Homo sapiens: one gene and its partners. The protein of the gene in region 3 interacts with the protein of the main gene of each other region in a pairwise test. Each region holds a gene or a part of one and is shown on either strand. Other genes may lie near its edges. The genes, in order: PDE4DIP, KRTAP4-12, ZSCAN26 and CDR2L.

Region 1 (7,721 bases), on a different chromosome or scaffold from region 3:
GCTACATGCTACAACAGAGTAGGCAGAGCGTGTTCTGGCTACACCCAGATCTAGGTTCTAAAAATAATTCCTAAAGGAGGTACTTCTGAATCTAACCTCTGAAGGGTATACAAATTTATCCCAGCAAAGGCAAGGCTAGATGTGTAGGTGGGAACAACTGGTATATTAAGGCCCACTCATAATAATTTTAGCTCAGGGTAAATTAAGTCGCAATGACTCTCCAACCAGCTCCCCGGGTCTGCTGGCAATAATGCTGCTCCTGTGGTGCCAATAACCTGAAAATCTCCAAGTAATACAAGAAAGTTATACACAGAAAACCTCCAAGTGATACACAGAAAAACCTAAAACCAACTCAATTCCAAACTTTACATGTTGTCATTTGGTAGACACAAATGTGAACTTCTTCCTGCAATAAAAACCTATGTTGACTTAGTTTAAAAGCAGCATATAAAGGATGTTGCCCATAATCCCCTAACCAAACAAGGCATCTATTTTCTCTTTTCTCTGTCCTTGTAATAGACATCCTAATAGGTATACATAGTTTTGATGTAATTTACATCTATCTTTTACTTTCTTATGTTAAAATTTTCTGTTTATTATCATTTCAGGAAACGTTTCAGGATAGTAATAGAGATTAACAGCAACAGTGAAGCATTTTACCCTAGAGAAGGGTAAAAGTTGGAAATGTTGCTATTGATTCACCTAGGTTATGCCACTTTAATGTCAGTGTGCCTCAGTTTCCCCCTTTACAATACAGGGATTCAGGTCTTGAAAAAGATATTTAAATTGAATGCAATATCTTTCTTATGGGACTATAACTTTAAGTAATTTGCAATGTACTTTCAAGAACTGGAAATGTTGACATAGTTATTCTACTTCTGAACATCTCTCATTCAAAAAATAATGCTGTGGAAGAAGATGCTTTATGCACCTAGACATTTATCAAGTATTATTTATAATAGTTAAAAATTGGAAGTCTACATCCTTTGGGTTAGGCGTAATGATTTAAAAGACACTGTAAATCCACAGCATGTTATTCTACATTATGAATGATAATATACCACATTATGAAGTGGAAAATAAATTCATTCTTAAATTGTGTGAAATGCTAGAAATTATTCAATTTTCTTTGTGAGTCAATGCTTTCTAGTTTTTTTTTTTTTTTTTTTTTTTTTTTTTTTTCCGACAAAGTCTTGCTCTGTCACCCAGGCTGGAGTGCAGTGGTGTGATCTCGGCTCACTGCAACCTCCACTTCCTGGGTTCAAGCAATTCTCATTCCTCGGTCTCCCGATTAGCTGGGATTACAGGCACCCCCCACCATGCCCACTAATTTTTGTATCTTTAGTAGAGATGGGGTTTCAACATGTTGGCCAGGCTGGTCTCGAACTCCTGACCTCAAGTGATCCTCCTGCCTTGGCCTCCCAAAGTGCTGGGATTACAGGCGAGAGCCACTGTGCCTGGCCAGTGAATGCTTTCTATATGTCAGAAGTTATTGCTTCTTTCCACCCTTTCCACCATGACCATGATAAGAAGACACTAGTTGCAAGTTACCTCTTCCCTCACTGGCCTTGGAAAAGACAAGAAAGAAAGACGTTTCTGTGGAATGTAACAAGCAGAAAAGGACTGAAGATAATGAGACAGATTAAGGAAAGATGAATCACAGGCTGTGAAAGTGCTATGAAAATAAAACAGTATTATTATACAATTTATTATAAATAGTCTATGACTAATTTAGCACTTTAGCCATAAGCGTTCAGAAAAAAGAAATTCAGATCATGCTTGTCTTGCTGGCCACAGAACTCAGAAAATGCTCTGAGGCAGAGGAAAACAAGTCCTCAGTGCATTTGAGTGTTTTAAAATAGAATCACATAGAGCCACCTTGGGTCAATATGACATCTCTTGTATTCTGGACTTTCTTCTAACTTTAAATGCTATTTGAATTTTTGCCAGAGACAGCTTGTGGAATGTTCTGAGCCCAGTTTGGAATTTTATTTATAAAATGGGGTAGATTTCAATAGAAGTAGTGTCCTGGGGCATCCACTGAATGGATGGATGCTCCACTTAGCCTTGAAAATATGATCCCTCAGCCACAGTCAGGCGAGCCTCCCAGGATGGGGACGGCACCATGAGGTGTTACTTATCCTTTCTGAGACAAAAACAACCCCTTCCCAGTCTTTAGGTATTTTAAACATAGTCTTAGCATGTAGCTGAAAAAATGGGGGTTGGGGGAGTCAGGTCCAGACTGATCTAGTGTGTGGAAAATAAGCAAGTAGGAGTGAAAGCATTGATTCTGGCAAATTCCCCAAGCCGAAATCCAAGTATAGGCCCATTTAAAAGTAGACTGGAGTTGCCAAGGCAGAATTTCCTTCTTAAAATTCAGATAATTAGTTGCTAGCAGTGCTGAATATTAAACAGGAAATTCAACTTCCAAAGATGTTTCAATAATAGAATTCTGAAAACAAGCATTTTCCTAATATGAAGTGTTACATGCAAAGCACCAGCACCATAATAAGTAAAGGTACTGGAATTAACTAGGCCTTCATACAACACATACTAGTTGTGTGAATGCCAGCAAATCATTTAACCACTTTAACCTCAGTGGCCATATATCTCTGGTTGTAACTATGTCTTTGTAAACAGGACTCTCTACTAACTCACCATAAATTCAGAGAAAAATAAATGTCCCTGATTCCTCTAGGCTAAACATTTATATAGAGAAAAACAAATTCAAATAAGCTATCAATGGAGATCTGTTAAGTACAATATAGCTGTGGTAAATGGACACCTTGTCTTGCTTGAAGGCTGTACTCCAGAAAAGAAACAAAGTCAAAATTCTTAAATTTTGAAACCAGATCATTAATTTTCTTGAATGTTACTTCCATTTTCCAAATTTTCACAGATACAGCAAGCAAATGCAATTAATGCTTGCATTTTATTAAATCAAATTGCAGGGGAATAGAAAACAAAACAAAACAGACTAATTTGCTTTCCTTTTTTAACCTTCAGTCTTATAGTTTGCCCTTAAACATTTCTAGTTCACTCTTTTCTTGAGTTATGTGTTCGGGGAAGTTGTATAAGGTTCATATATGATTCACCTGATGTTTACTCAGCTTTCTCATATGCTAGAAACCAGAACATTTCCACTGAAATGGGGAAGATAATTAGTAATGACTTTTTCAGCATTGAACGATGTGGTAGGCTAAAATAATGGCCTTATAAGAATGTCCACATTCCTAATCCCCAGATCCTGTGTATATGCCACTTTCCATAGCAAGAGAGGGCTTTGCAGATGTGACTAAAGATTTTGAGATGAGGAGATTATCCTGGATTATCTGGTTGGGTCCAATGTAATCATAAGGGTCCTAGTAAGAGGGACACTGGAGGGTCAGAATGATCAAAGGAGATGTGATGATAGAAGCAGAGGCCAGTGATGGCATTGCTGGAAGGGGCTATGAACCCAGAATGTGGGCAGTCTCTCGAAGCCATGAAGGGCAAGGAACAAATTCTCCTTTAGAGCCTCTAGAAGGAGCACAGTCCTGCTGATACCTTGGTTTTAACCTAGAAGACCAAATTTCAGACTTCTGACCTCCAGAACTTTAAGGCAATACATTTGTATTGTTTTAAGCCACTAAGTTTGTGGTGATTTGGCTGGGCGCAGTGGCTCACACCTGTAATCCCAGCACTTTGGGAGGCCAAGGCGGGTGGATCACTTGAGGTCAGGAGTTTGAGACCAGCCAGGCCAACATGGTGAAACCCCGTCTCTACTAAAAATACAAAAATTAGCTGAGTGTGGTGCCATGTGCCTGTAATCCCAGCTACTTGGGAGGCTGAGGCAGGAGAATCCCTTGAACCTGAGAGGCGGAGGTTGCAGTGAGCCAAGATTGCACCACTGCACGCTAGCCTGGGCAACAGAGTGAGACTCCATCTCAAAAAAAAAAAAAAAAGTTTGTGGTGATTTGTTACACCAGCAACAGGAAATTAATACAAACAGTAATCCTGAAGTACTGATAATCTTTAAAGCAGAAGGTGTAGGGAGTTGCTAGTCCAGACAGGTGGATGCTAAAAATTTAGAGCAGTAGAAGCTGTTTGCCTGGTTGACACTGGACCTGCCGGGTGAGAAAACCTCCCCTCATCATCAAGTTCTTCATCAGCTCCATGAGCTTATTCTTTTGACAACTCTCGCCCTGTTCACGGAAATAAATCTGAAAGCTGGTGACCAAATCAGCTTTTTGTAATGCCAGTATATTCATAGAAAATTTGCTATTCCAGAGCCAACCATGCTCTGTCCAAATGATTTAACCAGTGAGTTTGGCAACAGTCAGGTAACGGCCCCAGCGGGTAGGGGGAACCTTTCCATTGAGCTGTAGAGGGGCAGATGATGTGTAGCTGGGAGTAGAGCATATCTAACTTTGAGAACTAAAATACCAAGCACCTTGTCCTTTGTGGGTAAATTGAGCAAGTAGCTAGCTTCAGAAACAAGTCATAAACTGAGTCACCTACAAAACTCTACTAAAATAAAGTAAAAGCATAGATTTTGGAATGAAACAGTTCAAGGCTATATTTCTTTCTCGGCTGTGTGTGTCACTCTGGGAAAATTATTTAATCTTTCTGAAGCTCAATTTCCTTTTCTTAAAAATGAGTATAACATTTACTTCATAGGGTTGTAAGGATTAGGTGAATTAAGTATTCAAAGAGATTAGCACACAATTAAAGCTTAATAAATGTTATCAATTATGGTTAATTTTTATTCTTTCAATCCCCTATCCACTGTGTACCCAGAGCAGCCACTGCGTATCTCTGCCTTAGTGTCTCTCTATTAAAATTATAGATGATGACAATGTAAAGCCATTAAAGGCAGAGACCCAGTCTCATTCATTGCATTCATTGTTTTATTCTTAGCATCTAGCACAGCGTCTGACCTGTTTGGGGCTCTCAAAATTTATTTATTTATTTATTTATTTTTGAGACAGAGTCTCACTGTGTCACCCAGGCTGGAGTGCAGTGGTATAATCTCAGCTCACTGCAACATCCGCCTCCCGGGTTCAAGGGATTCTCCTGCCTCAGGCTCCTAAGTAGCTGGGACTACAGGTGCAGGCACCACACCCGGCTAATTTTTGTATTTTTAGTAGAGATGGGGTTTCAGCACGTTGGCCAGACTGGTCTCGAACTTCTGACCTCAAGTCATCCACCTGCCTTGGCCTCTCAAACTGTTGAGACTACAGGCGTGAGCCATTTCATCCGGCCCTCAAATTTTTAATAAGTGTTTATGAACTAATCTGATCTGTGAGTTAGGAAGGATCTGAGATGTCAGCCATGATCTGTGATTATAGGATTTTTCCAACTGTGACCCATTAGGTGGAGAAATAAATTCAGTGAATCAGAGCCAACATTTTATTTTTAAAGAAAAAGAATAGAATAGCAAATATCAGAGTGCAAAACACATAGTAAAGTTAAGTATTGTTACAAGAAACTTTGTTACATATGTAAGAGTACTTGGTGGCAATGTAAATATATTACTTATTGTGAGTAGTGGTTAAAAAATATGTGAACATTCTGAATGGTCCACCTTGCCAGCATTTGCTACTTTCTATCTTTTTAATTTCAGCCATTCTGATATGTATATAGCAGCATGGTGTTGTGGTTCTAATTTGCATTTCCCTGATAACTAGTGATGTGGAGCACCTTTTCACTATGTTCTTCCCTTTGGATACCCTCTTTTTTTTTTTTTTTTTTTTTTTTTTTTTTTTTTTTTTTTTTTTTTTTGAGATGTAGGCTCGCTCTGTCACCCAGGCTGGAGTGCAGTGGTGCGATCTCGGCTCACTGCAAGCTCCGCCTCCCAGGTTCAGGCCATTCTCCTGCCTCAGCCTCCCGAGTAGCTGGGACTACAGGTGCCTGCAACCACGCCGGGCTAATTTTTTGTATTTTTAGTAGAGACGGGGTTTCACCGTGTTAGCCAGGACTATCTCGATCTCCTGACCCCGTGATCCGCCCGCCTCGGCCTCCCAAAGTGCTGGGATTACAGGCGTGAGCCACCGCGCCTGGCCTGGATACCCGCTTTAGAAATCTCTTTTGTAATCTGTTTAAAAAAAAACAATCTGGCAGTATTTACTAAATCTGAACATGCATTTCCTATTACGCAGAAATCATACTTCTACTTATTTACTCAACAGAAATGTGTACATATGTTCATCAAAAGACCTGTACAGAAATGTTCATAGCAACACTGTTTATAATAGCTCCAAACTGGAAATTGCCCAAGTGCCTATTAAGAATAGAATGGACAAATAAATTTGATATATTTATACACTATAGAAGCCTATTTAAAAGCAAGAATAAATGGACTACAGTACCATATAACAGTATAGAACTCCAAAAGCAAAAGATTGAGTGAAAGGAGCCACGTACGAAAGAGTACATGGTGTATAATTTCATTTACATAAAGTTCAAAACTAGGCAAAATTATTCTATGGTGTTAAAAATTAGGATAATGATTATCCTTGAAGTCATCAGGAGGGCTTCAGGGATGCTGGTAATGTTCCCTTTCTCTATCTGAATGCCCATCCCATGAGTATACTCAGTTTGTCAAATTAATTGGACTGTAAATATATAATTTGCGATTTTTCCAAATCATTTCTGAATTTGTCTGAAATTGTTACATGTAAATATAAAATTTTTAAAACTTAATAAATAATACTTTTTTCTTCAAGTGTGAAAAACACTGGCAGAGAGCAAAAGGCCCTGATACACTCACTCCCATCACCATCAAGTGGTCATCTAGCCTTTGCCTGAGTAACTCCAGGGTCAACAATCTCTTTACTGCCCATACTGCCCAGGCAGCTAACTTGTTAGAAAGCTTTTTTTTAATTTTTTTTTGAGACGGAGTCTCGCTCTGTCGCCCAGGCTGGAGTGCAGTGGCGCGATCTCGGCTCACTGCAAGCTCCGCTTCCCGGGTTCACGCCATTCTCCTACCTCAGCCTCCCAAGTAGCTGGTACTACAGGCGCCCGCCACCACGCCCGGCTAATTTTTTTTGTGTTTTTAGTAGAGACGGGGCTTCACTGTGTTAGCCAGGATGGTCTCAATCTCCTGACCTCGTAATCCGCCCCCCTCAGCCTCCCAAAGTACTGCAATTACAGGCGTGAGCCACCTCGCCTGGTCTTTTTTTTTTTTTTTTTTTTTTTTTTTTTTGAGGCGGAGTTTCGCTTTTGTTGCCCAGGCTGGAGTGCAATGGCTTGATCTCGGCTCACCACAAACTTCTCCTCCCGGGTTCAAGCGATTCTCCTGCCTCAGCCTCCGGAGTAGCTGGGATTACAGGCACGTGCGACCACGCCCGGCTAATTTTGTATTTTAGTAGAGATGGGGTTTCTCCATGTTGGTCAGGCTGGTCTCGAACTCCCGACCTCAGGTGATCCGCCTGCCTCAGCCTCCCAAAGTGCTGGGATTACAGGCATGAGCCACTGCACCTGGCCAGAAAGCTTTTTCTTTACACTGAGCCATAACTCGCCTCCCAACAACTCGCTTGCATCGGTTGTTCTGTCCTCCTAAGAGATTCTAATGTGATTCAATCCCTCTACCACCAATAGCTCTTCGGAAATTTGAAGGAAGCTACCACATCCTCCCCACTCCCAGTCGTCATTTCTCCGGACTCAGGAGTCCCAGGTCCTTCCTTTGGCCATCCCTCAAGGCATGGCTTTGAGTTCCCTCCTGTCTCTTGATTGTACTT
Region 2 (7,057 bases), on a different chromosome or scaffold from region 3:
CACCTGTAAAATCCTGTAGAGTCAGCTGGGTATTAGTGTGAATCGCGAGATCAGATAAAATATGAACTTATACTAATCCATAGACTTTTTATACACTAGCAATAATTCTCTCTAAAATTTAATGGAGAAAAATCACACACTGGGGCCTGTCGTGGGGTGGGGGGAGGGAGGAGGGATAGCATTAGGAGAAATACCTAATGTAAATGACGAGTTAATGGGTGCAGCACACCAACATGGCACATGTATACATATGTAACAAACCTGCACGTTGTGCACATGTACCCTAGAACTTAAAGTATAATAAAAAAAAAAAGAAGCATGTACTCACAGTTCTCAAGAGTAAATAGAAAAATATGTAAATAAATCTGCCAAGCCTTTGTGAAGGAAAATGTTAACATTTCCGGAAGGACATAAAATAATGTTTGAATAAATGTCAGAACAAGAGATGTGCAACGAAAGCCAAGTTTTCAAATAAATACATACATGTTTTATGCATGCATTTAATGAGGATGTATCTCAATTTGCAACATTAGGTATTGAATGGGATTGGCAAAGATCATGATGGGAAACTTACTTTTGTTCACATTGTCACATTCTTTTGTATTGTCTAAATGTTTAAAGAGCATATATTTGTGTATAAATGATCTAAACATCCTTAGAAAATAATAAATGTGATTTATATAAAATTCATAATTTTTCTACATATTCTGTTAAATATATTTTCTGCTATTATGTTTACATTCTTATTTCTTTCAGGAACTAAAATATTAAAAGTACATTTCAGTCAGTCATTTGAGCTCTCAAATTAGCTATCATGAATTTCAAATTGTTTTGGGGGACAGGCTGGGTTCCCCAGGAAGCAGTCACTGAGATGGAGAGCAATATGCAGGAGGTTTATTGAAGCATGCTCTTGGGATTAACACTGGGGAGGGCAGGGGAGGGGAAAGGGAGGGGAGGGGAAAGGGAAAGGGAAGGGGAAGGGGAGGGAAAGGGAAGGGAAGGGAAGGGAAGGGAAGGGAAGGGAAGGGAAGGGAAGGGAAGGGAAGGGAAAGGAAGGGAAAGTGAGAGAAAGATCAAGTTTGACACTGGGATAAATCAAACTGCAGGGCAATCTCCGTGGAAGTCTCAGATGAACCTATAGGGAGTTCTGGAGATGAGATGACCCATTAGAGGCATCCCTAGTTGGGGAGAAATGTGGGTCTTTATAGTTTCATCCTAAAAAAAGGGCATGACTTTGGACGAAAAGAAAAAAAATCAGTCTCCAGCATACCTGTGAGTTTTCACTAGGCCTGCTTCCTTCATTTCCATCACCTGCCTGGCCGTGAAGGTGGCCCTCTCTACATGGCAGCATGAACTCCCCATTGAAACTCTGCCAGTCAGAATGAAGGAGATCCACTGTGTTTGTGTTGAGGATTCATTACACATGACTCAGTAGAAAATACATGGACTTTGCTAAACCACCTAATAGCTGCTTTTACTGGAAAAAAAAAGAAATTGAAATACAGTGTTTTAAAAGATCACAGCTCTGTGCACAATAGTAAAGACATGGAATCAGTCTAGGTGCCCATCAACAGTGCATTGGATAAAGAACATGTGACATTTTCACACCATGGAATACTACACAGCCATAAAAAAGAATGAAATTTTGTCCTTTGCAGCAACATGGATGTGGCTGGAGGACATTATCTTAAGCAAATTTTTCCAGGAACAGAAAACCAAATATTGCATGTTGTCACTTACAAATGGGAGCTAAACATTGGATACACATGGACACAAAGATGAGAACAATTGGGGACTCCAAAAAGGGGGGAGAGAGGGAGAGAGGAAGGGCTAAAAATGACCCACTGCTCAGTACCTGGTGACAGAATCATTTGTAGCCCAAACCTCAGCATCACACAACATGTAACAAATACGAATATGTACTCTTTGATTCTAAAATAAAAGTTGAAATTATTTTTTAAAAGATGATGAGTTGTGATCAATCTTTCAAAACGTTTCCCCTGTTGTTATATTCATGGATATTTCATGACTTCAGCTTCACTCTTTTTGTCTAAAGAATACAAAATGACTAATTGATTTGCCTAAGCCTGAAAAGACTTTTCTAGAAAAAAACTAGGCAGTGATCGATGTCAGTTGACCTCTGTTAGAAGGTTGACTAATCTGTGCTGTGAGCCCTACAGGTGTAGTTAAATGTAATCACCCAGGACCTAAATATAAAACCCTTTTTAAAAAGAGAATAAGAATCATATTCAATTTTCAGTGCCAATAGAATAGAGGTTTATTTTGGTACATGGAAATAACAAGGTACAAAAATGTTTGCAAAAGACTTTAAGAGAGAGACTTCACTGGACTTCAAGGTTGGAGGCTTTAAGATCTGTGGCCCTACAAATGATGGAGGCAATCTTCAAATTCCTTAGGCATGATGAATAAATGTCCTGAAGTCAAAGAGGTGGGAGGATGTTGGAGGACAATTTGTCAATTTATTAGGAGATTGTCAATGAATTCCTTTGGAAGGAAGGGAGTTTGGACAAAAGGTAGAATGCAAATACAGAATTTCTAAGGATGAGGTTTGCTTATGGGACCCAGATCAATTCTCTTGAACAGTCCGCATGTTTGCAATGAGAGCCTTCATCTGTAGGAAAGGACGTAATAAGGAAGTGGTGTGTTCACAGCAGAGATTTAGCAGCAAGAGGAGGCACAGCACAAGGGGCGGGGGCAGGTGGAGATGACACAGGTTGGGCGATAGCAAGTGGTGTGGCAGGAGACTCGGCCACAGACTGGACGCAGGCAGCAGCAGGGGCGGCAGCAGCTGGATTCACAGCAAGAGGGGCAGCAGCTGCTGGAGATGCAGCAGCTGGGGCGGCAGCAGGTGGGCTGGCAGCACACAGACTGGCAGCACTGGGGTCTGCAGCAGCTGGACACACAGCAGCTGGGGCGGCAGCAAGTGGTCCTGCAGCAGGTGGTCTGACAGCAGCTGGGGCGGCAGCAGGTGGGCTGGCAGCACACAGACTGGCAGCACTGGGGTCTGCAGCAGCTGGACACACAGCAGCTGGGGCGGCAGCAGGTGGTCCTACAGCAGGTGGTCTGACAGCAGCTGGGGCGGCAGCAGGTGGGCTGACAGCACACAGACTGGCAGCACTGGGGCCTGCAGCAGCTGGACACACAGCAGCTGGGGCGGCAGCAGGTGGTCCTGCAGCAGGTGGTCTGGCAGCAGCTGGGGCGGCAGCAGTTCTCCAGGCCACAGCCCTGGTCAGAGCACACAGAGCCACAACAGGAGTTGACCATGGTGTCAGAGGGTGGAGGTTCTCGGTGGGTTTCCAGGAGAGTGAGTGTTCTGAGTTTGATCTCTCCTTGTTCTCTCTTTTGCTTTTTATACCCTGCTGAGAACCACTATGACAATGTGAATAATCTTGTGGTTTGCACATTACTAATAGAGAATCAGTTGTTTTTTAGTAAATTAGATAGTTGTCCTTATCTGGTAAATATTTCTATAAATAGAAAAGGCAACATTTCCTTTTCCTGTTGTATTCTGAGCTATCCAATTTGGTTAAGCCAAGTGAATCAGCTCTCATTCTCCTTCCTTCATCTGATGTGTCTTCTGATGTGTAGACCCATTACATGACATTGTTTGATTGGATTTCATAAGTTAATTCTTTATTTATTTGACTCCTGGATAATAAGTTGAAAATAGATTTTATGATGACTAAATCTCCTCTGCTCTCAAAGAGGTTAAAAATAAATTACATAGAATGCTGGTAGGAAAATGTGATGAAAGATTCATCTTTGGGGGGTGATAGGAGGTAACTTGTGTATAATAAGGAACACTGTGATTCCTTTGAATTTTGTGGCTGGTCAGTGAGATATAAAAGATCCCACTGAAATTCCTGTTTCATGTTATTGACTCTATTTAGCTTGAAACAGATATAATGCAATGATTCATTGCTTTACAAGTAAAAATACATTGGCATGATAGGTCCCTTTATAAATTATTGTTGGCATGTTCTTCAGAGATGGGGATCATAAGGAACATTTTTGTTCTATTTTGTTGGTAAGTCAAGATACCCACTGAATGTGTTTAACTGAAGTGTTATTGAAAGTAGATTTTCTCATACTCGAAAGCTGCTTTTTCTCACAATGTATGTTGGAGATATTTTGCTTGATACATGGAGAAAAGAAACAAAGGATCAAGTTTAATTTCTGTCCTACAGAAGCTTAAACAAGACAAATAAGAAACATGTATAGGAAAGAATTTAGCAACTATTTAGAGAATGGTGTGATTAGTGAACAAAATAACAATTATGTATTTAATCTGTACACTTCCAATGAAAGATGAAACAATACTAATAGTTATAATTTTTTGAGTGCTTACTATGTGTCAGGAATTTTCTGAGTCCTCTATAATTGTTATCTTGTTTATACTTCACAAGGATTCTGCTATGTAGACACAATTTTTCTAAATTCTTTACATCCAAGGTACTTGAGGCCCAGATAGATTGAAGTCACACAGTCTGTAACAGGGAAAGGGCGTCTCTCCTAGAGTGTTCAAGGAACATTTTGCGCATGAACATTTTGCAATTAAATCCCTCCTGATATTTAAAAACAATTATTTATAATTAAAAAGATGCAAGGTATGTTCTCACTCCTAAGTGGGAGTTGAACAATGAGATCACATGGACACAGGGAGGGGAACATCACACACTGGAGCCTGTCGGGGGTGAGGGACAAGGGGAGGGAGAGCATTAGGACAAATACCTGATGCATGTCGGGCTTAAAACCCAGATGACGGATTGATAGGTGCAGCAAACCATCATGGCATATGTATAACTATGTAACAGACCTGCATGTTCTGCACATGTATCCCAAAACTTAAAGTAAAATTTAAAAAAAAAAAATGTATGGTAAGAAACCATCATAAACAAAGTAAAAACACAAATGACTAAATAATAAAAAAAGAACTAGCAATTAATATCACGGACAAAGGGTTAATAGTATATAAAAGACTTCTGAGACTGGACACGGTGGCTCACACCTGTAATCCCAGCACTTTGGGATGCCAAGGCAGGCGGATTGTTTGAGGTTAGGAATTTGAGACCAACTTGGTTAACTTGGCAAAACCCCATCTCTACCAAAAAAACAAAAAAAAGCAAAAAAAAAAAAAAAAATGGCGAGGTGGCATGCATCTGTGGTCTGTGGTCCCAGCTACTCAGGAAGCTAAGGTGGGAGGATTGCCTGAGCCCAGGAGGCGGAGGTTGCAGTGAGCCAAGATTGCACCACTGCACTCCAGCCTGGGTGACAGAAGAAGAAGAAAAAAAGGCTTCTGGAAATAGATAGAAAACAGACCAACAGCCTAATGGGAAAATAAAATGCAAATATTTTACCACCATATAAATATACTCAATCTCATGCATAGTAAGAGAAATGAAATAATATGGTACGATACTTCTCACCTGTTAGATTATCAAAAATTCAAAATCTGATAGCATTCTCTGGAAGTGAGATGATGTGAAAATAGGCATGCTCGTATTTGTCTTGTGAAGGTTTGGCAATAACTAGCAGCATTATTCTTTGACTCAGCTATCCCAATTCCATAAAATATCTCAAAGATACTCAGGTAAATATATGAAAGATATTGCACAAGACGATTCATAAGAGTTCTATTTGGGAAAAAAACTAAAAACTACAACAACACTGGATACAACCCAGGTGTCCTTCAATAGGGTACTGGTGTATAAACTGTGGTGCCTTCCCATGATGGAGTACTATGCAGCTGTCAAAAGGAATAAGGAGTGTCTCTATAGGCTACTATAAATTAATCTCCAGTAGATATTGTTAGGAGACGATAAAGCAGTGGAGGAAAATGTGTACAATTGTTCTGCAACAATGTTTTAAAAATCCAGGATATAAATATTGAAAGTATATTTGCTTACACTTTAAAAAACGACAGAAGAATAGAGAGAGAGGAGATGAGAAAACAGGAAAGAGGGACTTCTGTCAAAACATCAAATTGTGCATTTTAAGTACATGCAGTTTATTTATTATATGTCAATTGTAATTTAATGTAGCTGAAAAAAAAAGAAAAAAATAATGGAAGAATCAACCACATTTGGTTTTGTTGTTGTTGTTGTTGTTGTTGTTGTTTGAGACGGAGTCTCACGTTGTCACCCAGGCTGGAGTGCAGTGGAGCGATCTTGGCTCACTGCAACTTCCACCTCCTGTGTTCAAGCAATTCTCTGCCTCAGCCTCCTGAGTAACTGGGATTACAGGCGCCCACCACCACACCCAGTTAATTTTTGTATTTTTAATAGACATGGGGTTTCACCATCTTGGCCAGGCTGGTCTTGAACACCTGACCTCATGATTCCCTGCCTCAGCCTCGCAAAAGTGCTGAGATTACAGGCGTGAGCCACCGCACCCAGCCCATGTTTGTTTTTTAAAAATTGACCCATAGAGGATGGAGGGAATAGAATAGAGAAGATAGAAACAGACACTAGATTATTTTTGAATGTATCTTTTTCTGTAGCTTGGACTTTGCACCCATGTAAATATTTTACATACTTATAAAAATATTAAATTTTTAAAATCTCTCAAAATCACTAAAACCACCACCACAACAATGGAATCTAACTGTATATCCAGGCATAACTTCAGAGAAAGTAACTATCCCAAGGCCAAAATGTTTTTTTCAAAAACCTGTTAAGTTTGTTTGCAATAACTACACTGTTGTTATTAGTATTGGCAATATTATTCCAAGATTGTTGTGCAAGCATTAGGTAATAAAGAAAATGAGTAATTACATCAAGGAACTGTTATTTTTGGCAAGGAATAAAAGAGATTTAGGAAAAAGATATGAGGTTAAGTAAAAATCCTGTAATTATCAGTAGAAACGCTGATGTACTTTATCTTTTAAGCAAATATTTTCTAGTTGTGGACACTGAAAAAGTTGAGAGAAAATAATCAATTTAGTAATACTCATCATTTTTACATTTCAATCTTTCGTCCCAAATGCCATATTCACTACAAGGAACAGGGGTTCCTTGGAGAAATGGCTGAATATAAG
Region 3 (7,721 bases):
ATGAAAAGATATTGAGAAAATTTAAAAGCATATTACAAAGTGAAAGAATCCTGTCTGAAAAGCTACATACTGTATGATTTCAACTACAAGTTGAGTATCCCTTATCTGAAATGCTTGGGGCCAGAAGTGTTTCCAATTTCGGATTTTGGAATATATACATACATTATGAAATATCTTAGGGATGAGGCCCAAGTCTAAACATGAAATTCATTTGTTTCATATATACCTTACTCACATAGAGCTAATTTTATACAGTTTAAATACTTTCGTGCATGAAACATAGTCTTTTTTTTTGAGATTGAGTCTTGCTCTGTTGCCCAGACTGGAGTGCAGTGGCACAATGTTGGCTCACCACAACCTCCGCCTCCTGGGTTCAAGCGATTCTCGTGCCTCAGCCTCCCAAGTAGCTGGAACTACAGGTGCATGCTACCACACCCGGCTAATTTTTATATTTTTAGCAAAGACGGGGTTTCGCCATGTTGGCCAGGCTGGTCTCAAACGCCTGACCTCAGGTGATCCACCCACCTTGGCCTCCCAAAGTGCTGGGATTACAGGCTTGAGCCACTGCACCCAGCCGAAACAAAGTATTGACTGGATTTTGTCTATGACCTGTCACGAGGTCAGGTATGAAATTTTTCACTTGTAGCATCATGTTGGTGCTGAAGTTTCACATTTTAATGCATTTTGGATTTTGGGTTTTCAGATTAGCTGTACTCAACCTGTATACATGACATCCTGGAAAAGGCAAAACTATAAAGACTGTAGAAAGGTCAGTGGTTGCTAGGGGCTGGAAAAAGGGAGGGATGAATAATAGGTAAGGCACAGAGGATTTTTAGGGCAGTGAAACTATAATGGTGGACACGATATTATGTATTTGTCCAGACCCATAAAATGAACAATACCAAGAGTGAACCCTAATGTAAACTATGGTCTTTGGGTGATAATATGTCAATGTAGGTTCATCAATTGTAACAAATGTCACCCTGGGAGGGGATGTTGATAATAGGGGAGGCTATACATGAATGGGAGCAGTGGGTATATGAGAAATCTTTGTATCTTCCTCTCAATTTTGCTGAGAACTTAAAACTGCTCTAAAAAATGGTTTATTAAAAAAAGCAAACCATTTTGTACACATCAGATTGTCAAATATTCAAAAGAATAATTCCCAGTTTACGTGGGTATAGAAAATTGGGCATTATCATAGGCTGCTAACAGGGTGTACAAATTAGTGTAACTTTTCTGGAGGGCATTCTGGAAAATGCATCAAAAGCCTTAGAAAATATGCCTACCTTCTGCCTCATTGATTCTCATTATGGGAACTGAACAAAGAAAAAAATTCTGTAAGTAGGCAAAGTTGTATATACAAGGATGTTCACTGAAAAATTGTTTATGGTGATCAAACTGTAAATGACGTAAATGATGAACAATGGGGACATATACCATAGAATACTGCACAGCTTATATGGAAAATTATCTTCCACAAACACTTTAAATAAATCTGCAGGGATTTGTTTGAAACCTTTATTAGAAGGAAACAGTATTCTATGGACTCCCAAGACCAGGATATATATGGATTGCAGAGGCTGAGGGCTGAAGTTGTCACTCTGGTGATATGTTTTGGAGTGGACGCCCCTAATTTTAATATTCTTCATCTGTGACATTCTGCTATTCACAGTATAAAGATCATGATCTCCTCTCCAAGCTGACTTTATTGTTTAACTTCCGAAGTATTCCAGAACAAGCAACATTTCAAAATTGCATCATCAGTATTAAAGGGAAAAAGTCCAATTTCTTTCATCAGACATTTACTGAATAGTGTCTATGCAGCAGCCACTATACTGGCACTGGAGTTATCAAGTCAGACAGTTGCTATTCAGATTAATTCAGCAAGGTTCATTCAAATTACTCATGAAATCTCTTTCAAAGTCTAAGTAAAACGTTAATTTATAACTTGAATCTTGACATAATGTGGTGGGGAATGGGGATGGGAAATGGTAAAATTACATGAAGCTAACCCTGAAGGCAAGTTCTGAAGTTCACCAGCGAAAATTATCTTTGCTTTTGAAAATGCTTCCACTGGGGAAGGAAGGGGTAAGGCCAGTGGGAGGAATGAGGTGAAGCCACTGGGGGAAAATGTTCACCATTAACCTGTACTTTAAAGACACCTTTGAGAGTAGTATACTTCCAAACATCATCAGTTTTATTTCATAGGAGAAAGCTGCTATAGCATATCCAAAAATATCAATCTTCCCTTGTTCTGCTTAAGCCTGCAAATCTGTGGGCACTTGATTCACTGCTGACTTCAAAACTCTTACTCAGTCATGAAGCTCTCTATTGCTTAGAGTATATAATCATGCAGTTATGTTACATGCTCTGAGATGTCCTGCAGTGAAGAATGCTGTTTAACTTTGATCCTAGCATATCATCTACAGTGAAATTATTGTGGTCCAAAGCTGACTTCAAGGAAAGCAAAGGAGAGAGAATAGAGGCAGGGAGCCTCCAACTCAGCCCCCAAGAATTTTCTGATGCCACAGTGGGCTACGGTGACTTTTCCTAAAGTGCTGTTTGCTAGTCAATGTGCCTTCTCTGATGTTCTACAAGGAGAGAACACCTCATCAAGCCAGTTTGTCTTTGTGGTGATATCTCTGATGTTGAAAAAGACCTGACCTTTGCCTGAAGGCTTCTCCACATTCACTACACTGATAGGGTTTTTCTTCATTGTGGATTCTTACATGCTGAGCAAGGTGTGAGTTTAGTCGGAAGGCTTTCTGGCATATGTTACACTTGAAAGGTTTTTCTCCAGTATGAATTCTGTGGTGTCGAATAAGGTCTGAGGTCAAACTGAAAGCTTTTCCACACTCGTTACATTGATGGCTTTTGGAGTGACTATGGATTCTCTGATGGTGGGTGAGGAGTAAGGCCTGACTAAAGGTTTTTCCACACTCCTTGCACTCACAGGGCTCCTCCTGACTGTGAATTCTCTGATGTCGATTAAGGTGAGAGCTGCGCCTAAAATTTTTTCCACAATGGATACATAGATAAGGTTTCTCTCCAGTATGAATTCTGAGATGTTCCAAAAGGCCTGCATTCTGGCTAAAGACTTTGCCACACTCATTGCACTGATAAGGCTTCTCACCAAGATGGATTTTCTGATGTCTGACGAGGTGTGAACTCCTCTGAAAGGCTTTCCCACACTCATGACACTGATGACCTTTCTCTCTAGAGAGGACTTTCTTATGTCCTGTAAGACTGGAACTCTGACACACATCAGACTCGCAGAGTTTCTTTCCCGTGTGTGTACTCGCATGTTCAATCAGGTCCAAGTGCTGGATGAATCTCTGCTCACGTTCTGAGCATTTATACTCAATCTTCTCTTTGGGCTTGGCCTGATGCCTTTCCAAGTTAGAGCCCTCATTATGAGCCTCCATGGGTTCAGATATTTTCCCAGATGACTCTACTCTTCCACAAGAGTCTGTTACTACAATAAGCTTCCCATTCTCAATCCTTGTCTCCTCACCTGCAATATTAAATATATACCACCAATTACTTGTCTTTTGATGCTTGGGGAAAGGAATCTGCAACTAAAAGGAAAAAAAAATATAATGAAGCCATGTGTGCAAAGTAAAAACATTGTGGATGCTTGTGATTGCGTAAAATAGTTACAGAATGGTACACAAGACATTGTTAACTGTGACTGTCTTTGGGGAAAGATGGGGAATTCTGGTGGGAGGTGACTTATTTTAAATAGTTTAAATTTTATCATGGGATACCACACACAGAGAAGCTAGCAAGCAAGCAAATAAACTGTCTTAAAGGGCATGGCTGTACAGTCTTGAAGATAACTTGTCACATGGAAAATAAAAAAAGCTAGGTTAATTGAGGCCCCCAGGGCCCATAAGAAAGGGACGACATTTTAACTGAAAATGAAGAAATGTAGATGTGGTGCCCAATTTTATCACTAACTGTGTAATCTTAAAAAAGTAAGGTAAATCATCTGGGCTCTGTGTCCTCATCCATAAAGAAAGAATAATGTACTATAAGACCTTGACAATAACATGAAGTTCACAAAAATGCCTTCGCCTTTCCTAATCTCCTTGGACAGCAGTAACTGCTCTCCTGTGTGGTTCAACAGAGCTTTAATCTCAACGCTATGATAATTTATTCATGTCTGTCGCTCCCTGCACCCCTGATGCACAATGCCCCAAGAGACTGTAAGCACATGCAGAGCAGACTTTGTTTTCTCTAGCACAGAGCCTGGTACATAACAGACATTAAACAAATGTTTACTAAATAAATGGCCTGTGTCCTAAGGGTGAAATTAAATGAAAATAGAGAAAACTTAAGCTCAGATACACAAGCAGACGGGTGAGAAGAATGTGAAGTTTTTGTTTTGTTTCATTTTATATTTTTATTTACCAGTTTTTCTTGTAGCTAAGGATAACTCTTCAAAGGCTAGGAGCATGACTGGGGATGCAAAGTCAGAATGAGAGAGTAAAAGGAAAGCTGGATGGAGAAAATAGAAGAAAGACTCTAAGCAGCACTAATAACAAACAAAAGAGGGTTAATCAGTGTGAGCAAGTTAATTCAGCAGATAAGTAAAAAGGAAAGAGTGGATGACAGCTGAAAGGAAAAGTGAAAGTGAAGGAATTAGTAAGGAGACATCAGAGAAAGGAAGGTCACAGGTGGGGAGTGAATAAATTAAATAATGTAATAATGTACTGTGTACAAAGACCCTCTACAACAGAATGAAGTATTCAGTCCTACACAGGGGCAGGGGGCAAGAGTGAGAGATTAAGGGAAAGGAATAAGACTCTTCCAGTAATGACATAATCACATATACAACTTTAAAAAAGCAAGAGAGGATGAAACCAAAAAACAACCTGAACTTTGAATATAAAATAACATTTTTAACAGATCCAGAGGGTAAGGGACATTTTCAAGAGTCTACTGACATTACATTCACTTTTTTTGAGACATGGTCTTGCTCTGTTGCCAACGCTGGAGTACAGTGGTGCAATCACATAGCTCACTGCAGTCTTGAACTCCTGGGCTCAAGCAATCCTCTTGCCTCAGCCTCCCAAGTGGCTAGAACTACAGCTGCATGCCACCACGCCTAGCTATTTATTTATTTTTTGTAGAGGACAGGGTTTCACTATGTTGCCCAGGCTGGTCTCAAACATCTGGCTTCAAGCAATCCTCCCACTCTGGCTTCCCAAAGTAGTGGGATTACAGCAGCCACATTTACTTTTTGTATTTAAACTATACACCCATCACTGATTACATGGTAATCATTTCTGCAAGGCTAATTCATTTCTGCAAGGCTATTGAGAAAAGGTAGGCCCCTTTCTTTCAGCTACTTTATTCAGGATGCTCCCAGAAGAAAGGTAATTTGAAGCTGACTTGGAAATTGAACAGAGGAATAGGTAGCATGTAAAGCATGATTTTACATATAAAACCAGTCATTCATCAAACAGACATTTATTGAGGGTCTACACTAGGCCAGGGACTGTAGCTGACTCAGAAAACAAAACAAAACCCCTTCCCTTTTAGTCTGGCAAGAGAAAAAGAGAAGCAAACTAGAAACTGCAATATAATGTAATTAGTTCTATGACAGAAAAAAAAAAGAAGAAATGAAAAAATGTAAGGAGCAAAAATTAGGAAGAAGAATTTCAGTGACAAAGAAAATAAAGGAGGCTGGGCGAGTGGCTTGCACCTATAATGCCAGCACTGTGAGAGGCCCAAATGGGAGAAATGCTTAAGACCAGGAGTTCGAGACCAGCCAGGGCAACAGAGGGAGACCCTGTCTCTACAAATAATAATAATAAAAAGCCAGGTGTGGTGGCACACACACCGGTAGTCCCAGATACTTGGGAGGCTGAGGTGGGAGGATCACTTGAGCCTGGAAGGTCAAGGCTGTAGTGAGCTATGACTGCACCATTGTACTCCAGCCTGAAGACAGAGCAAGACCCTGTCTCAATAGAAAAACAACAAAAAAGAAAGTATAGAACCAAAAAAAAAAAAAAATCCAGGTGACGTTTAGAAATGAAAGATAGTGGCCATTTACAATAATTTGAAGGAAATGTTAAAAAATGAGTAATGAAGCATGTGGCTTTCTTTGCCTTGATTAAGAAACTAGCAGTACTTGTTTTTTTTTTTGTTTGTTTGTTTTTTGAGACAGAGTCTTGCTGTGTCGCCCAGGCTGAAGTGTAGTGGCGTGATCTCAGCTCACTGCAATCTCAGCCTCCTGGATTCAAGCAGTTCTCTGCCTCAGCCTCCCGAGTAGCTGGGATTACAGGCACCCGCCACCAAACCTGGCTAATTTTTGTATTTTTAGTAGAGACAGTGTTTCACCATCTTGGCCAGGCTGGTCTTGAACTCCTGACCTCGTATACCTACCCACCTTGGCCCCCCAAAGTGTTGGGTTTACAGGCATGAGCCACCATGCCTGGCCACTATTTGCTTTTTTAAGAGATGTTGCCCAGACTGAAGTGCAGTGCAACAATCATTGCTCACTGCAGCCTTGAACTGGGCTCAAGTGATCCTTCTCCCTTAGCTTCCCAAGTAGCTGGCCTGGCACTGCTTTTTTTATTCACCCCTACAGTAAGAGGAAGAAGAGCAAGGTGAAGGTCCAGGTTCCCTTTGTACCCTTTTCTTGCTATTTTGTTCAGCTAAAATATTTGGGGTGATAGATATCTCTTATCTCTTGATAGTGGTCCTGATTAGACCACAATTATTTCGCATTTGTGAAAACTCATTGACCTGTACATCTAAAAAGAGTGAATTTTACTACATATAAATTATGCTTCAGTAAACCTGACTCAAAACAAAAGCAAAAAACAAAATACAAGGGTGCTAAGCACAACCTCAGAGGGAAAGGCACAGTCCACCACGTCTCACACACAGAAGATGCAATCCAATTCTTACCCTTCTCTTTCTCAGGCTTTGTAACTTCACACTCATGCCGAACCTGCTGTTCCTGTACTCCTTTCAGAGGGGCCATCTCCTCCACAAGTATTTTTTGTTTCTTTGGCTGGTCTGGGTCCTAGGGACAATTAGGTATATGGAGGCATAATTAGATATATGTGGGTTTAGGAAACTGCTGTTCAGTAAAACACCTAGGTGTTAAAAAAGAGAAGAAAGAGAAACCCCAGAGGGGCAAAGAAAAGAAGATGGGGAATCTGGTGCACATTCAGTTTTCTCCAAGCAAGGGCCAGGTAAGGTTGAGGTAAGACCTAAGGAAATTAACAGCTAGACTGGAAAAAAACTGAATCAAAGCTTAGTAATTCTCCTTCCGCTGATGAGCCCATGTCCACCTGTCTGGCCAGAGATCTCAATTCCTGCATTCCTGAAAAAGAGCACATCTGACCCTTACCACCTGTTGTCCTGTTTCTCCAAGATCCAGCTGCAAATCCTCCAGAACAACAACCACGTCCTCCCTGCTCTCTGGGTGATGCTCCTGCACCCGGGCCTGGAGCTCCTTAGGCAGGATGATCAGAAACTGCTCCAGCACCAGCAGCTCCAGGATCTGCTCCTTGGTATGGGTCTCGGGCTGTAGCCACTGTTGACAGAGCTCCCGGAGCCGACTTAGTGCTTCTCGAGGTCCTGTGGTCTCTTCATAACGCAACTGCCTGAATTGTTTGCACAATGGCTCCTGTCCAAGGCCTTTACTGTTTCCTTGCAGCTTGAATCCCTGTTCCCAAGTAGAGTAGTGATCCTCCCTC
Region 4 (7,721 bases), on a different chromosome or scaffold from region 3:
GCCTGTGTGTGCCTTTATGCAACTTAGAATAAGGTGCCAGCTTATCGGACACAGCCTTAGCCCAATAGCCTGGTACAGTTCACAACTGTGCTATCCTGTACAAGGATAGCACAGCTATCTCAGGCAGCCCTATTGCACAACTAGATTTTTTTTTTTTTTAAATAGACACCAAGTCTCACCATGTTGCCCAGGCTGGTCTCTAACTCCTGAGCTCAAGTGATCCTCCCACCTCAGCGTCCTAAAGTGCTAGGATTACAGGCATGAGCCACCAGGCCCAGCCTGAACCACCATTTTTAAGCCCCACTCAGCTGAAGACAAATACATCAAAGCAAACTTGTCCTTAGAAGGGGAGAAGGGGCTGCTGGCTCATGCTTGTAATCCCAGCACTTTGGGAGGCCAAGGTGGGTGAAATACTTGAGCCCAGGCAACATGGCGAAACCTTGTCTCTATAAAAAATACAAAAATTAGCTGGCTATGGTGGCATAAGCCTGTGGTCCCAGCTACTCAAGAGGATGAAGTGAGAGGATTGCTTGAGCCTGGAGGTTGAGGCTGCAGTGAGCCGTGATTGTGCCACTGCACTCCAGCCTAGGCAACAGAGCGAGACCCTGTCTTAAAAATAAATAAATAAAATAAATAAGATTTATTTCTTTTTTGAAATGGAGTCTCACTCTGTCACCCAGGCTGGAGTGCAGTGGCGCGATCTGGGCTCACTGCAGCTCTGCCTCCCGGGTTCACGCCATTCTCCTGCCTCAGCCTCCTGAGTAGCTGGGACTACAGGCGCCCACCACCGCACCCGGTTAATTTTTTTTGTATTTTTAGTAGAGACGAGGTTTCACTGTGTTAGCCAGGATGGTCTCCATCTCCTGACCTCGTGATCTGCCCGCCTCAGCCTCCCAAAGTGCTGAGATTACAGGTGTGAGCCATCACGCCGGGCATAAAAAAGATTTTAGAAGTTAAAAAAAAAAAAAAAGGCCGGGCACAGTGGCTCACACCTGTAATCCTAGCACTTTGAGAGGCCAAGGCGGGCAGATCACGAGGTCAGGAGATCGAGACCATCCTGGCTAACACGGTGAAACCCCATCTCTACTAAAAATGCAAAAAATTAGCCAGGCATGGTGGTGGGCACCAGTAGTCCCAGCTACTCAGGAGGCTGAGGCAGGAGAATGGTTGGCGTGAACCCAAGAGGTGGAGCTTGCAGTGAGCCGATGTCGCGCCACTGCACTCCAGCCTGGGCGAGAGAGCAAGACTCCGTCTCAAAAAAAATAAATTAATTAATTTAAAAAAAAAAGAGGCTGGCGTGGTGGTGCATGCCTATAATCCCAGCCCTTTGGGAGGCAGAGGTAGGCAGATCACTTGAGGTCAGGAGTTCAAGACCAACCTGGCCAATATAGTGAAACCCTGTCTCTACTAAAAATACCAAAATTAGCCAGGCATGGTGGCAGGCACCTATAGTTCCAGCTACTCAGGAGGCTGAAGCATGAAAATCACTTGAACCCAGGAGGCAGAGGTTGCAGTAAGCCGAAATCATGCCACTGCACTTCAGCCTGGGCAACACAGTGAGACTCTGTATCAAAAGAAAAGAAAAGAAAAAAGACAAAAAAAGAAGTAGGAGGGTCTAGGCAGAGACATTTGCCCCTGCCCAATTCTAAAAAGTTACTCAATGTCCTTCCACCCCCAGTACCTAACCAAGCAGCTGGACACGCTGCGGCACGTGAACGAGCAGCACGCCAAAGTCTATGAGCAGCTGGACCTGACAGCCCGGGACCTGGAGCTGACCAACCACAGGCTGGTGCTGGAGAGTAAGGCTGCCCAGCAGAAGATCCATGGGTGAGGGCCCGGCTGAGGGCTGGGGGGCGGGCGAGGGAGAGCCCCAGGGCTGAGTGTACACAGGGGCCCATGGACTGATGGGTGTGACTTGTGCACGTCTCCCTAGGAACCGGGGATGGGAGTGAGCTTGTCCTTGTCGATTTTGTGTGGTTTAACATTCAGGCCGCAACCTTGCTTTAAGCACCAACTATGCACCAGGCTCTTCTTTAGACACTGGGGATGCAACGATGGGGAAACAAAGACATTGTCCTGCCCTCTAATACCTCACAGCCTGGAAGAGAAGGCAGGCATGTAAATATTTTATGGCAGTGCAGGACAATAAGTGATAGAGGAGTGACAAGGAACTGAGGTGGCACAGAGGAGAAGCGATCAGCTCGCCTGAGAGGTACAAAAGAAGGGCGGGTCCTTGGGCATGCATAGAATTCCCCATCCTACCTCAGGACCAGACAGCGGCTCAAGGGTACCTGTCTGCCTCCTACCCAACGTCCCTCCATCTTCAGGGAGCCAGGGCTGCCGTGAGGCAAACTGGCCCCATCCCCTTAAAGTCCCTGTGTGTCCACCACCCCGCCCCCAGGCTGACGGAGACCATTGAGCGCCTCCAGGCTCAGGTGGAGGAGCTGCAGGCCCAGGTGGAGCAACTGAGAGGCCTGGAACAGCTGCGAGTGCTCCGGGAGAAGCGGGAACGCAGGCGTACCATCCACACCTTCCCCTGCCTCAAGGAGCTGTGCACCAGCCCCCGGTAGGTGAGAGCACTGCTTGGTGTCTCTGGGATTGCCAGCCATGGGAGGAAGGAGAGGCAGCAGGCAGCAGGGTGCAGTTGGTGCATCATCCAGGCCATCAGAGAGACTGGTCCTGTTGCTAATGACAGTCACAGCAGCTGGCGTTTACTGAGCCCTGGCTGTGTGCTGCCACTATGCTGATATAATTCTTATTGCAACACTGTTGGGGGTGTTTTATTATGCCTACTCTCCAGATGATAAAACTGAAGCCCAGAGGTTGTGTGTCTTATCCAAGGTCACCTGTTTAGTAAGAGGCTCAGCCAGCATGCTAACCCAGGAGGGGTAACCCACTGTGCTTTTCAGTTCCCATTAAATCTAACACTAGACAACCACTTAATAATGGAAAAATACATGTGTCATATGTAGTGGGTGTTTCAATAAGGGTCCTGGCAGGAAACAGTCTCTTACACAGAGTAATGGAGAAGTTAAATGAAGAAGAGGTGTGGGCAGGGGGTAGGGAAACCACAGGGACACTATAGTGCCCCAGGGTTGCAGCAGAGAGGAGCTGCCACCAGCCCTAGGCCTCAAAGCGCAAGGGGGAAGGGAGGTTACCGGCACCTGGAAGGTATGGAGAAGGCTGCCTGGTCACCATTAACCATGGAGAGCCCAAAGAAGACACACCCCACGGCCTCTGCTCCCCCCTCGGACCTCTAGCCAGTGCCTCTCATGGGCCAAGCTCAGGAGAGAACCAGGCAACCTGACAGAGGCGGTCCGTAGTGGTCAGCCTCCGGGGGCAGAGAGCAGGGGGAGAAGGGTGGAGGAGGGTGGAGAGCCAACGGAGAGGGGCAAACAATTTCAGCCCAGAGAACAAGAGAGATGTAAGCGCCCTGGCTGGGCTGCTCGGCCTTGGCCGTGCCCGTGACCACTGCCCTCTCCTCCGCCCCCACCCCGCTGCGACTCTCACTACCCGCCAGGTGCAAGGATGCTTTCCGCCTACACAGTTCCTCCCTGGAGCTGGGCCCGCGGCCCCTGGAGCAGGAGAACGAGCGGCTGCAGACCCTGGTGGGGGCGCTGCGCTCCCAGGTGAGCCAGGAGCGGCAGCGCAAGGAGCGGGCGGAGCGCGAGTACACCGCGGTGCTGCAGGAGTACTCGGAGCTGGAGCGCCAGCTGTGCGAGATGGAGGCCTGTCGCCTGCGTGTGCAGGAGCTGGAGGCCGAGCTGCTGGAGCTGCAGCAGATGAAGCAGGCCAAGACCTACCTACTGGGTCCGGACGACCACCTGGCCGAGGCCCTGCTCGCACCCCTCACGCAGGCCCCTGAGGCCGACGATCCCCAGCCCGGCCGCGGGGACGACTTGGGCGCCCAGGACGGGGTCTCCTCACCGGCAGCCTCTCCAGGCCACGTGGTGCGCAAGAGCTGCAGCGACACTGCGCTCAACGCCATCGTGGCCAAAGACCCAGCCAGCCGGCACGCGGGCAACCTCACACTGCACGCCAACAGCGTGCGCAAGCGGGGCATGTCCATCCTGCGGGAGGTGGACGAGCAGTACCACGCGCTGCTGGAGAAGTACGAGGAGCTGCTGAGCAAGTGCCGGCAGCACGGGGCCGGAGTGCGGCACGCCGGCGTGCAGACCTCGCGCCCCATCTCCCGGGACAGCTCGTGGAGGGACCTGCGCGGGGGTGAGGAGGGCCAGGGTGAGGTCAAGGCAGGAGAGAAGAGCCTGAGCCAGCACGTGGAGGCCGTGGACAAGCGGCTGGAACAGAGCCAGCCCGAGTACAAGGCGCTCTTCAAAGAGATCTTCTCCAGGATCCAGAAGACCAAGGCTGACATCAACGCCACCAAAGTCAAGACGCACAGCAGCAAGTGACCCTTCTCCGGCCTGCAGCCTCCCCCAGGGTGGAAGCCGTGGGGTCCCTCAGGCCTGGGCGGTGCAGCTTCCAGAGAGCGAGCGCCCTTTAGCGGCCTGCCACCACAGCACGCGGCCTCCTGATCCGGAAGCACGCAGCATGTTCCCTGCTGAGCGGAGGCAGCCCACCTGTCCTGCCTCCCAGGAGCCCTTGGCCACCTCGCGCCAGCCCAAAGGCGCAGCTCTGAGTTCAAAGCCAAATGTCCCCACTACCCCAGGGATCCCCCAGCTCCCCCAGCCCCTGGCTTCCTGACCCTGCGCCTCACCCTCAGACTGGTGACCAGGCTTCTGAAAGCCATTCTGGATCAGTTGGCTTTTTTTTTTTTTTTGGTTAAGTTTGTTTTTTCTAAGAGATTTGCAATGCAAGGTCTCCTTGACCCCTTGCCACAACTGGAAACACTTGAAAGGGGACCCCAGGGCCAGCTGTTTCAGGGGTTTCCTGGACCACCCACTGCTTCTCCCCAACCCTGATGCGCTGACATTCCCTTAGCACCAGCTGTCCCACCTCCAGGGTCCTGACCAGGTCAGAGATGTCCCCTGCCATGCAGAGCAGGAAGCCTCAGCTGGGCCTGGAGTGTCCCTGCTCCAGCCCTGCCAGGGACAGGTTTCTCCCTGGATACTCTTGGCCCACCGCAGATCTGTAGCCAGTCAGAGGAGGAGGAGAAGGAGCCCCTCAGCAGAGTGGTGCAGTTTCGCTCAGAGCTTGTCTCCTTGGCTTCCAACCCCAGAAATGCCTGCTGGGCCTTAAGCTTTCCAGGGGCCGGGGCAGTGGGGAGCCCCCATCCCTTCACACCGCCACCAACTAACCAAGCTTGGCCTCTGACTCCCGTCTCTGTGCTTGCCCCCATCTCAGGGACCATGATGTCTCAGTCACTCCACGCTCCCCACAGGCCAACCCTGGCACAGGTCATGTCTGCAGCCCCCAGAATGTTCTGGACATGCACCACCAGCCGGTGGTCCCAATGTCCACCCCTGCCTCCCCTTCACTGGGGACTGGGGTTTTCGCCCCATGCTGCATCGTGTTGTATTGGGATGGGGCTGAGGAACATGCTCCCTCCCTCCCTCCCATAAAATGCCTGCTCTTCACCTCCCACCTTTGTGGGGGGCTTTTGAGGACCCAGCTGCGTCAGGAGTTTTGCTTCAAGATGTCAGAAAGTCAAGTTCAGCTAAGAGACACCCAGGTCCCCAGCTTGCCCTGAGCAGCCCTTCAGGGCTTCTGGTTCCTTCTGCCGCCCTTCCTGAGACCTTAGAAACCAGAAGAGCCATACAGTCAGTGGAAGGCGGGGGGGCCCTGGCCTCTGCACCGGGATCCCAGTGGGAACCTTCATGCCTTATTTATTTCTAATGGGTAAAGGGGTTTTCTTACCAAGCATCCCTGACCTCCTGGAGACACCACCTGCTTTCCGGGCGGCACTGTGATGGGAGCTGGTGGCGACTGAGTCCTTCTGTACGTGCAACTGGGAAACTTTTGTCCTTTGAGGCTAGGCAGCTCCCTGCCCTCCGTGTGTGTCTGTTATCTGGGGGAGAGGAGTGTGGAAGGGTTGGGGGAAGAGCTCCAGCCTGTCTGCTCCCCAGCTCTGTAGTGGCAGACCAGCGTCACCTTTGAAGTATACGTGAGAGAAATATATTTACAAATGCTTTATTCTCTTCTTTAATAAAAAATGCACCAGTATTCTAAAAGCAAAAATGGCCCATCTCTGTGCATCTCACACACCTGCCTCGCGTCACGCCCAGCCATGGGAGAGGGTAACATCCTGTGTCCCACTTCCCTGAGACTGAACAGCTCCAAATAGCAGGCTCTGGCAGAAGTTTCTATATTTATTGAGGGCCAGCTAGGGATACATGGTGAACAAGCCAGCAGGGCCCCTCTTCCCTTGGAGTTTATATTCTGGTGTGGGGAGATCCACCCAAAATAAACAAACAAAAGATACGGCATGATGGAAAAATCGGGGCAAGAGGGTAGTGCTACCTCAGCTAGAGCACGTGGGCCCAACAGGGTGAACCAAGTTAAAAAAAAAAAAAAAATCGGCCTGGCGCGGTGGCTCATGCCTGTAATCCCAGCCCTTTGGAAGGCCAAAGTGGATTGCTAGAGCCCAGAAGTTTGAGACCAGCCTGGGCAACATAGCAAGACCCCCTTTCTACAAAACATTTTTTGAAAATTAGCAGAGCATGGTGGTGTGCATTTGTAGTCCCAGCTACTCAGGAGGCTGAGGTGGGAGGATCACGAGCCTGGGAGGTCAAAGCTGAAGTGAACTATGATCATACCACTGCACTCCAGCCTGGGCAACAGAGCGAGACCCTGTCTCAAAAAATCATATCTAGATATATAAATACAGCACATGAAGAGATATACAGTGTTACTAAAATTCCTGGGGGAGCAATTCGGAGAAAATGTCTAAATAGGCTCTTTGAGGTAGGAAGGGGGAGCGATCATGGAAAAAAAAGATTGAGAAATGCTAAGCGAGGGTGGTCAGGGCACCTCTGGAGAGGTGATGATGAAGCTGAAACCAGAAGGCTGAGGAGGAACCAACGGGAAGATAAGTGGAGGCCCAGGGAGCAGCTGGGGCAGTGGGGGGTGGCCAGAACAGAGGGTGGAGGCCAGGCTCCTAAGAGCCCGGAAGGTTCAGGGGAGCTCGGGCCTCCTAAGTGCAATGAGACGCCACGGCAGGAAGTCCAGGGCCAGACTGATGCCCTGAAGGACCATGAGGGATGGGGAAGTTGACCTGCCCTTGGTGAGCCACCCATTGATGACACAGGACAGTCACAGGAATGACAAGAGGGCCATCTCCTGGTGTTTTTCAAGCTGATAAACCCCATATCTCTCTTCCATATACATGAAAAACCTCACCACTCCCATTCTTCCTCAGATATCTGTCTCCTCCCCATGTTATACAGAGGACGGTACATAGAGGGGTTCATCTTCTGGAGGGGTCCCCATCACCAAGATTACACCAGCCTCCCTCTTGTTCTGGAAGTGCCGTCAATCCGTTGGGTTTTCTGTTTTCCTCAATGCAAAATGATAGGCCGGGCGAGGTGGCTCATGCCTGTAATCCCAGCACTTTGGGGGGCTGAGGCAGGCAGATCATGTGACATCAAGAGTTCGAGACCAGCCTGGCCAACATGGTAAAACCCTGTCTCTACTAAAAATACAAAAATCCTAGCTACTTAGGAGGTTGAGGTGGGAGGATCACTTGAACCGGGAAGAAGAGGTTGCAGTGAGCCGAGATCGCACCACTGCCCTCCAACCTGGGTGACAGAGCAAGACTCCGT

What was found.
Region 1: the proteins of ZSCAN26 (region 3) and PDE4DIP interact in binary tests that used the Homo sapiens proteins (3 or more experiments, as listed by UniProt).
Region 2: the proteins of ZSCAN26 (region 3) and KRTAP4-12 interact in binary tests that used the Homo sapiens proteins (3 or more experiments, as listed by UniProt).
Region 4: the proteins of ZSCAN26 (region 3) and CDR2L interact in binary tests that used the Homo sapiens proteins (3 or more experiments, as listed by UniProt).

The regions. Positions count from the first base shown.
Region 1 is NC_000001.11:148,845,910-148,853,630, reverse strand, and holds part of PDE4DIP (myomegalin), read right to left. Parts: intron 1-7,721. UniProt on the Homo sapiens protein: Functions as an anchor sequestering components of the cAMP-dependent pathway to Golgi and/or centrosomes.
Region 2 is NC_000017.11:41,120,838-41,127,894, forward strand, and holds KRTAP4-12 (keratin-associated protein 4-12), read right to left. Parts: upstream 3,346-7,057; 5' UTR 3,286-3,345; coding exon 2,680-3,285; 3' UTR 2,254-2,679; downstream 1-2,253. UniProt on the Homo sapiens protein: In the hair cortex, hair keratin intermediate filaments are embedded in an interfilamentous matrix, consisting of hair keratin-associated proteins (KRTAP), which are essential for the formation of a rigid and resistant hair shaft through their extensive disulfide bond cross-linking with abundant cysteine residues of hair keratins.
Region 3 is NC_000006.12:28,271,991-28,279,711, reverse strand, and holds the end of ZSCAN26 (zinc finger and SCAN domain-containing protein 26), read right to left. Parts: coding exon 7,373-7,721; exon of another isoform or gene 7,043-7,372; coding exon 6,925-7,042; intron 3,582-6,924; coding exon of another isoform or gene 3,518-3,581; coding exon 2,616-3,517; 3' UTR 1,508-2,615; downstream 1-1,507. UniProt on the Homo sapiens protein: May be involved in transcriptional regulation.
Region 4 is NC_000017.11:74,999,663-75,007,383, forward strand, and holds the end of CDR2L (cerebellar degeneration-related protein 2-like), read left to right. Parts: intron 1-1,678; coding exon 1,679-1,827; intron 1,828-2,401; coding exon 2,402-2,566; intron 2,567-3,520; coding exon 3,521-4,412; 3' UTR 4,413-6,138; downstream 6,139-7,721.